Regions from separate parts of the Homo sapiens genome. Here region 1 is reported to be linked to region 2. Evidence: microRNA targets listed by miRTarBase, many of them from high-throughput screens and not tested one by one. Region 2 holds a microRNA gene; the other region holds the end of a gene's coding sequence.
What was found. The annotated mature microRNA hsa-miR-3117-5p reads AGACACUAUACGAGUCAUAU and lies in region 2 at 2,914-2,933, opposite strand. An mRNA with a match to its seed (bases 2 to 7 or 8) in the 3' UTR can be bound and repressed. Matches are read on the target gene's strand: a 7mer-m8 pairs with bases 2 to 8, a 7mer-A1 pairs with bases 2 to 7 and ends in A, and an 8mer does both.

Region 1 (4,000 bases), not on the chromosome of region 2:
TGATAGATATTCATGATGGCACACGCCTGTAATCCCAGCACTTTGGGAGGCTGAGGTAGGCAGATCTCTTGAGGTCAGGAGTTCGAGACCAGACTGGCCAACTAGATGAAACCCCGTCTCCACTAAAAATACAAAATTAGCTGAGTGTGGTGGTGCATGCCTGTAATCCCACCTACTAGAGAGGCTGAGGCAGGAGAATTGCTAGAACCTGGGAGGTGGAGGTTACAGTGAGCTGAGATCGTGCCACTGCACTCTAGCCTGGGTGACAGAGCGAGACTTCATCTCAAAAAAAAAAAAAAAAAAAAAGATATTCAAGGTAATGTAGCTAATTATAACAGAGCCATGAATTGAACCAGATCTGCAGAGTCAGAGCAGTTAATCATTAAGCTACACTGACTCTTCAAAAGGGTGATGAAAGAGAACCCTTTGATATGAGAATAAATTCAAGGTGAGGAGAGGGTTGGAATGGATTTGTAATGAAATCTCTCTGTCTTGGTAGGTTCATCCTGACAAAAATCATCATCCCCGGGCTGAGGAGGCCTTCAAGGTTTTGCGAGCAGCTTGGGACATTGTCAGCAATGCTGAAAAGCGAAAGGAGTATGAGATGTAAGTTGGAGATGGGAAATCATCAGATAATGGTAAATGAAAAATCCTCAATAGCAGAGGCATCTGGACTTGGGGGTGGAGGCTTGTTGAGATGGAGAGAACTGAAGTCACTTGTCTTTCTCGCTAGACAGGGGCCTCAAGAGGCCAACTGATATGTCTTCCTTTGTCCCTCCCTCAATACCTTCTGACTTACAAAGCATTTCTTCTATTAGGAAACGAATGGCAGAGAATGAGCTGAGCCGGTCAGTAAATGAGTTTCTGTCCAAGCTGCAAGATGACCTCAAGGAGGCAATGAATACTATGATGTGTAGCCGATGCCAAGGAAAGCATAGGTATGAAATAGAAGGAGAGGGATGGGACAATCACAGCTCAGGGATTATGTAACCAAGGATCTTTCTAGTGAGTACTGGTAATTATGAGTTACATCTGTATCTCATAATTAGTAAAAAGACCCTTAAGTTTCTACCTTTGTCATATTGTCAATAGACTGACGATTTTAATTAGCACTAAGAAACATTAGCTTTAGGATAGAACGTTGAAGGGATATGAAATACTAAGTGGGGTAATTTTAGATGTTTCAGCCCTATTTGTGAATAATGGTAAGACTACTAGCAGTGCCCTAGGTAGGCTTGACAAATTATTAAGGAACTATCCTTTTGTTGGTTGCAGGAGGTTTGAAATGGACCGGGAACCTAAGAGTGCCAGATACTGTGCTGAGTGTAATAGGCTGCATCCTGCTGAGGAAGGAGACTTTTGGGCAGAGTCAAGCATGTTGGGCCTCAAGATCACCTACTTTGCACTGATGGATGGAAAGGTGTATGACATCACAGGTACTCTCTGTCCTCTAGAAATACAGGCTCATACTTCCTGATCTTTTATGTGCTCTAAACTGCGACGTTTTGGCTAATTATTTCTCATGTTTATAGAGTGGGCTGGATGCCAGCGTGTAGGTATCTCCCCAGATACCCACAGAGTCCCCTATCACATCTCATTTGGTTCTCGGATTCCAGGCACCAGAGGGCGGCAGAGGTAGGTGGTATTTCTGTCAATAATCTATCCACTATTTCAGTTTTGAATACGGTTTCAGATGACCTGCTTTTTAGGACACCCAGGGGCCTTGTTTTCTAGGAAGTTTGGGAACTGATAAGTATATCTAACTTAGGTAACCATATGACTCTAACATCTCTTGCCTTATTTCTTCTGTTTTACCTCAGAGCCACCCCAGATGCCCCTCCTGCTGATCTTCAGGATTTCTTGAGTCGGATCTTTCAAGTACCCCCAGGGCAGATGCCCAATGGGAACTTCTTTGCAGCTCCTCAGCCTGCCCCTGGAGCCGCTGCAGCCTCTAAGCCCAACAGCACAGTACCCAAGGGAGAAGCCAAACCTAAGCGGCGGAAGAAAGTGAGGAGGCCCTTCCAACGTTGATGCCCCTTCTCTTTCCTCAAATCAATGTCAGGGAGTCAAAAGGGCTGTAGCACAGGATGGAGTTTGATTTATCCCTCCTCCCCCAACACCTAGGAACTGAATCTTTTTCTTTTTATTTTTTGAGATGGAGTCTTGCTCTGTTGCCCAGCTGGAGTGCAGTGGTGTGATCTCAGCTTACTGCAACCTCTGTCTCCCGGGTTCAAGCAATTCTCCCATCTCAGCCTCCTGAGTAGCTGGGATTACAGGCACACACCACCACACCTGGCCCAGCTAATTCTTTTTTGTATTTTTAGTAGAGACGGGGTTTCACCATGTTGCCCAGGCTGGTCTCGAACTCCTGAGCTCAGGTGATCCACCCGTCTTGGCCTCCCAAAGTGCTGGATTACAGGCATAAGCCACTGTGCCCGGCCTGAATCTTGTCTTTTGACAATACCAAAGAAATAGGGGGTAGCTAGAGTAAAGAACCTAGGGCCTGGACCTGGGCTGGACAGTGTATCCCTTTAGGTGTGGGAACTGGGTATTTCCCTGGGGTCTGTATGCCTTTGTCTTGTCATTTGCTTTTAGGGCAGATGACACTTTTTCCCACCCTTTTAAAGCTACAAGTCTATCTTCTTTCTTGACCCATTTCAGGAGGGAGCCCTCTCCTTTATCCTGATATAATATTTAAAAGAGAACAAGAAAGCATGTAGCCCTAATGATAGGAGATTATCGCATAGAGTTCAGAGACTGGAAACTGAATTTTCCCTCGACTTTCACTTTGTGGGTAAATCACCCAATTTTAGGCTCTTTTCTGCAAGGATGGCCAAAATTAATCATTTTTAAAAAGTAGATTCATGCCCACTGCCCTTGGGTGAGGGGGAAGAATACGGGGGTTCCCAGAAGCCCCCATGTGATCCAAGGGTTTGTATTTTTTTTTTAAGTTTGTTCATATTTGTATGTACATGACTATTTAAAGCCAGGGGATTATCTTTCTATAAATGTATAACTGGCAACCTGTATCTTCCCTCTTTGTTGCCCATATAGCCGGAGCCCTTTTTCTCATTTGAGAATCTCTTCCCTACTAAGTGTTAAGCTTAGAGTGAAGGGCACCTCCTACTGGACCAAAGGAGAGGGGATTGGAGAATTGTTTTAAGTTTTATACATTAGGTCAGTATTCCATCTTCCCACCCCCAGCCTTATGAGGACAGCTCTCTACCCATCCTGATTAAACTGCAGCTATAGCTGAAAAAAATTATTGTAAGAAAAATACACAGCAAAACAGAGCTGGAAGGTGGTAAGTGTAAAAGATATGGAAAGATGTAATCACCAAAGAAGCTGCCCAAATGGCTTCCTGCTATGGAGGAGAGTGATTTGGCCCTTACCTCACCTGCCTTCCTGATTCAAAGAAACTTGCCACTAGCAGGACTGGGCCCAGGAGCCCCATTTGCCAATCTCTTCTCTTCTTGGGAGTCTGGGAAAGGTTGTATAGTTCTCAGGCTTTAAAGGTGTAGAAGACAGTATGGAGAATAAGAGAAGGATGTTTTATAGTCCTCTGTTTCAGTGCCTTCCCCATGCCCATGGAGCTGTCCCAAAACCCATCCCTCAGTATTTGTTGATGCCAAAGACACGAACCCCATGGAACTGGGGCAACTTCGGCAGCAGTACACTTAGCAATGAGGCTGTGTTGATGAGGAAGTGCGCAGCATCATACTTGGTATAGAAGCTGGCCAGGAGATAGCTGGGGAGAGAAAAAAATAGGGTGAGTGAGGTTGACCTTCTCTATCCATATTCTTTTTTTTTTTTAAGAGACAGTTCTCACCATGTTTCCCAGGTTGGAGTGCAGTGGCTATTCATAAGTGTGATACGTGCAGTACAACCTCAAACTCCTGGGCTCAAACAATCCTTCTGCCATAGCCTCCCAAGTAGCTGGGACTCCAGGCATGCACCACAGTGCCCTGCTCTTTCTCTTCTATTTTAAATGACCAGTTTT
Region 2 (4,151 bases):
AAATTAACCAGTTTGAAAAAATTTTATTTAAAATAGAATGATAGGAAGAATCTTGGCCAACAAAAGTGCTTGTAATGAGCCAGGTGATTGGTTAGGACCAAAGGATAAAAATAATGAAAACATATTAATCTCAGAGAGAATGAAATGGGTGAGTAAATCCAGTGGGTTATCATGGTCATAGTAAGCCCAGGCTAGCAGGAGAGCACTGAGGATAGGTACCAATCCATACTCATCAAAGCCAATTCTCTTTTTGTATCTATATACTGAGTCAGTCTTTCTTTTTTTCTTTCTTTCTTTCTTTCTTTCTTTCTTTCTTTCTTTCTTTCTTTCTTTCTTTCTTCCTTTCTTCCTTCCTTCCTTTCCTTTCCCTTCCTTCCTTTCCTTTCCCTTCCTTCCTTCTTCCTCTCTTTCCTCTCTTTCTTTCTTTCTCTTTCTTTCTCTCTTTCTTTCCTTCCTTCCTTCCTCCCTCCCTCCCTCCCTTCTTTCTTTCTTTCTTTCTTTCTTTCTTTCTTTCTTTCTTTCTTTCTTTCTTTCTTTCTTTCTTTCTTTCTTTCTTTCTTTCTTTCTTTCTTTCTTTCTTTCCGGAGTTTTGCTCTTGTCACCCAGGCTGGTGTGCAATGGCAAAATCTCAGCTCACTGCAATCTCTGCCTCCCAGGCTCAAGTGATTCTCCTGGCTCAGCCTCCCAAGTAGCTGAGATTATAGGCATGCATCACCACGCCCAGCTAATTTTGTATTTTTAGTAGAGAAGCAGTTTCACCATGTTGGCCAGGCTGGTCTCAAACTCTTGACATCAGGTAATCCACCTACCTCAGCTTCCCAAAGTGCTGGAATTACAGGTGTGAGCCACGGTGCCTGGCCAATATACTGAGTATTTCTTACTAGGACTTCAACTTACTAGGACTTAATATCTCCACATATGAGTAATTCTTACTAGGACTTCAACCTCTGCTAATGGAGCTGGGAGAGAAGTGATTGCATCAACTTTTGGGTAGGATGTGTTTAGAGGCACTGATCCATGTGGAGATGCCTTTGGGAACAGCAAGAAATAGATGCGGCAAAAGCTCGGAGATTGGCCTGGCTGTGGTGTTGCTCACTGTGAATCCAGGTACAAGGTCATATCAGTAGGGGATCTTAAATGGGAGGCATTTGACCTCATGCTTATTGCAGCCGTTGGGATGGTCTTCCACAATTTTTAATCAGAGAAACTGTGATTGTACATAGCAGCACTGGAGTCCTATTCTGATCCTTTGTCTTCTCGACTGATGGAAATGTGGCTCATGTGTCCTGTGGAGTCAGTCAGCATGGTGGCTAAGGGCACCGGCTCCAGTGCCAGACTGCATGGGATCAACCAATGTCGATTTCCTAGCTGCAGAAGCTTGGGCAAGTTACTTCACCCCTTTGTTTCTCAGTTTCTTCATCTATAAAATAGCCATCATAACAGCATATATCCCATAGGGCTATTAGAGGATTCAGTGGACTAACATAAGTGAAGAACCTGAGACAGTCTCTAGAACATAGTAAATGCTCATTAAATGTTTTCTAGAATAATAATTTTTATACACTATGACCCAGGTTAGGGAGTGAAGAGATTTTAGCAGCCTCAGACACTTGGGCATGTGTTCTAATTTCACTTTCTAACCCCCTCTAATGAGGTTTTATATTGTATTTTAAAATAATTTTTTTCTTTTTCATGGCAGACTTATTGTATTTGCTGACTTCTATTTTAAAAAGAATCATCTACCATGGACTTTTGGCATCTATATTTTAAAGTTTCAGTTACCTTTTGTAACTACTGTCTTTTTTTTTTACCCTCCTATCTGTCTGGATTTTAATTCTACCCATTGATATCTTTTCTTTTGGGTGATGAAAGCACAGACACTGGATTTTAGACTAGAATATGGCCTCCAAGTCTTAGTTTGTGGGTAGCCTTCAGAAAGTTACTTATCCCCCTTTGGCACTGATATTTCTCTTTAAAATTGATGTATTACTGCTAACCTTATTTAATTACTAGGAAGACTAAAAAAGATATCAGCGCAACATATGTCCTGCACAGGGCCTTCCACTTAGCACAACCTCTCTCCCTTCCTCTATCAGCTGCTGTAATGATGACCAAATCAGGAAATTCTGGTCCTAACCCCACTGTATATCTTAGGAGGTTCAATCAGCTGAAGTTGGTGCTGGTGTGTCTACCCTAGCAGGTTGCTGAGCAACCCACAGTGAGTTGTAGCAGCCCTGAAAACAGTTTGCATCAACAAGGCTTCAATGATCACAGACAAACACAAGCATTTACTAAAGCTGAAGGGACAGCAAATTGCTAGAGTGCTTTCCCAACCCCTTTGCATTTATGATTTCTTTTCTGAGAATGATATATGATCCAATTACAGAGTTCACGAAAGCATTAGGGAGTTCATGAAAAGCAAAGGCTTATACTAAACATACTAAACAGCTTGTCCTTTGACCATCACTGATGGTGGAACCAGCTTCAGCTATTTTGCTATCACGTAAGTAATTTGGGACTCTCAAATGATAAGTTAAGGAAGGATACTTGGGATTCTTTAAACAAATGTCTCGTTAGAGTACCTCAGAGAGATATTGGGCCTCTACCCGTAGCTGTGAGGAATAACTCAGTTATTTTAATAACTTTAGAAATGATGATGGAAGAGTAGTGCTTTGGCTACATGTAAATTAGTTCAGCCTGCCCTGTAGAGGTTGTTCAACCTTTTCTCTCTCGAGAAAGCTTTTTTCCATTCCAACTTTCCTCACATGCCAGAAATCTCTGGTGCAGTCAATTACAGACATTGTCTTCATTCAGAAATGGATTTGGTTTCCATTAACGATGTTCTCCTGAGATCCATCGAATAGTGTCCCACAAAACACCTGGCACTATATGAGTCCTATAATGCCTTCCCTTATATGACTCGTATAGTGTCTGGCCCTTTAGGGAAATTCGATTCCATCTAGTGTAAATTTCTTTGTTGTTGTTGTTTACAGGTGTGGAAACTGAGGCCCAGCAAAGTAAAGGGTAATTCCCAAAGCCATGGAGTTTTGGCAATGCTGGGACTACAGCCCAGGTCTTCTGATCTAGTGAAGGCATCATCACATATTCTGGGTGGTTAATGATTAGAAAATGGCAAGGGAATATAAATCATGCTGCTATAAAGACACATGCACACGTATGTTTATTGTGGCACTATTCACAATAGCAAAGACTTGGAATCAACCCAAATGTCTAACAATGATAGACTGGATTAAGAAAATGTGGCACATATACACCATGGAATACTATGCAGCCATAAAAAATAATGAGTTCATGTCCTTTGTAGGGACGTGGATGAAGCTGGAAACCATCATTCTCAGCAAACTATCGCGAGGACAAAAAATCAAACACCACATGTTCTCACTCATAGGTGGGAATTGAACAATGAGAACACTTGAACACAGGAAGGGGAACATCACACACCGGGGCCTGTTGTGGGGTGGGGGAGGGGGGAGGGATAGCATTAGGAGATATACCTAATGTTAATGACGAGTTAATGGATGCAGCACACCAACATGGCACATGTATACATATGTAACAAACCTGCACGTTGTGCACATTGTACCCTAGAACTTAAAGTATAAGAAAGAAAATGGCAAACTTCTTAAGAAACAATGTAAATTATATAATCCTCAGAAAAATATTGCTAACTTAATTATTTAGAAAAATTTGCAGGACAACAGTAAATGTAATATTCTTGAAATAAATAGTTACAAAAGAAAATGCAAAAAGAAAATATAAGAACTTAACATTTGGCATCTAGACAAAAAATAACTTTGTTCGCCCAATCCTTTGCACTCTTTGGCTTAAAAACTTTCATGGTTTCAAGGTGGCCCACTGCCTATGGAAGTAGCCCACACACTTCAGCCTGGTACTTAAGGCCCTTCCTATCTGGTCCTGGTCTCCTTTCCAGCCTTGCCTTCCATTATCACATTTACCTGTAACCCCAAGTAGACAAACTGCCCCATTTGTCTTGTCAGTAAATGCCTAGTGGACTTTACTACCTTTCCACTTTTGCTTTTGTTGTTCCCTTTGCATGAAATACACATCCTCATCTTCTTGAAGGCCAAACTCAAGTCTCCTCCCCCACCCCGAAGCATCACTGATCATCA

Region 1: miRTarBase lists ORMDL2 as a target of hsa-miR-3117-5p. Seed matches in the 3' UTR shown: 7mer-A1 at 2,602-2,608.

The regions. Positions count from the first base shown.
Region 1 is chr12:55,820,008-55,824,007 of GRCh38, reverse strand. It overlaps ORMDL2 (ORMDL sphingolipid biosynthesis regulator 2), which reads right to left. Exons shown (of 4, transcript NM_014182.5): 4 at 2,129-3,748. The coding sequence ends at 3,613. DNAJC14 (DnaJ heat shock protein family (Hsp40) member C14) reads left to right here. Exons shown (of 7, transcript NM_032364.6): 3 at 500-606; 4 at 819-938; 5 at 1,276-1,436; 6 at 1,533-1,635; 7 at 1,821-3,023. The coding sequence ends at 2,031. Among named protein-coding and RNA genes, the nearest start is that of ORMDL2, 4.0 kb to the right of the region's middle.
Region 2 is chr1:66,627,234-66,631,384 of GRCh38, reverse strand. It overlaps MIR3117 (microRNA 3117), which reads right to left and starts at 2,945; the gene lies at 2,868-2,945. All of the region lies in intron 2 of SGIP1 (SH3GL interacting endocytic adaptor 1), which reads right to left.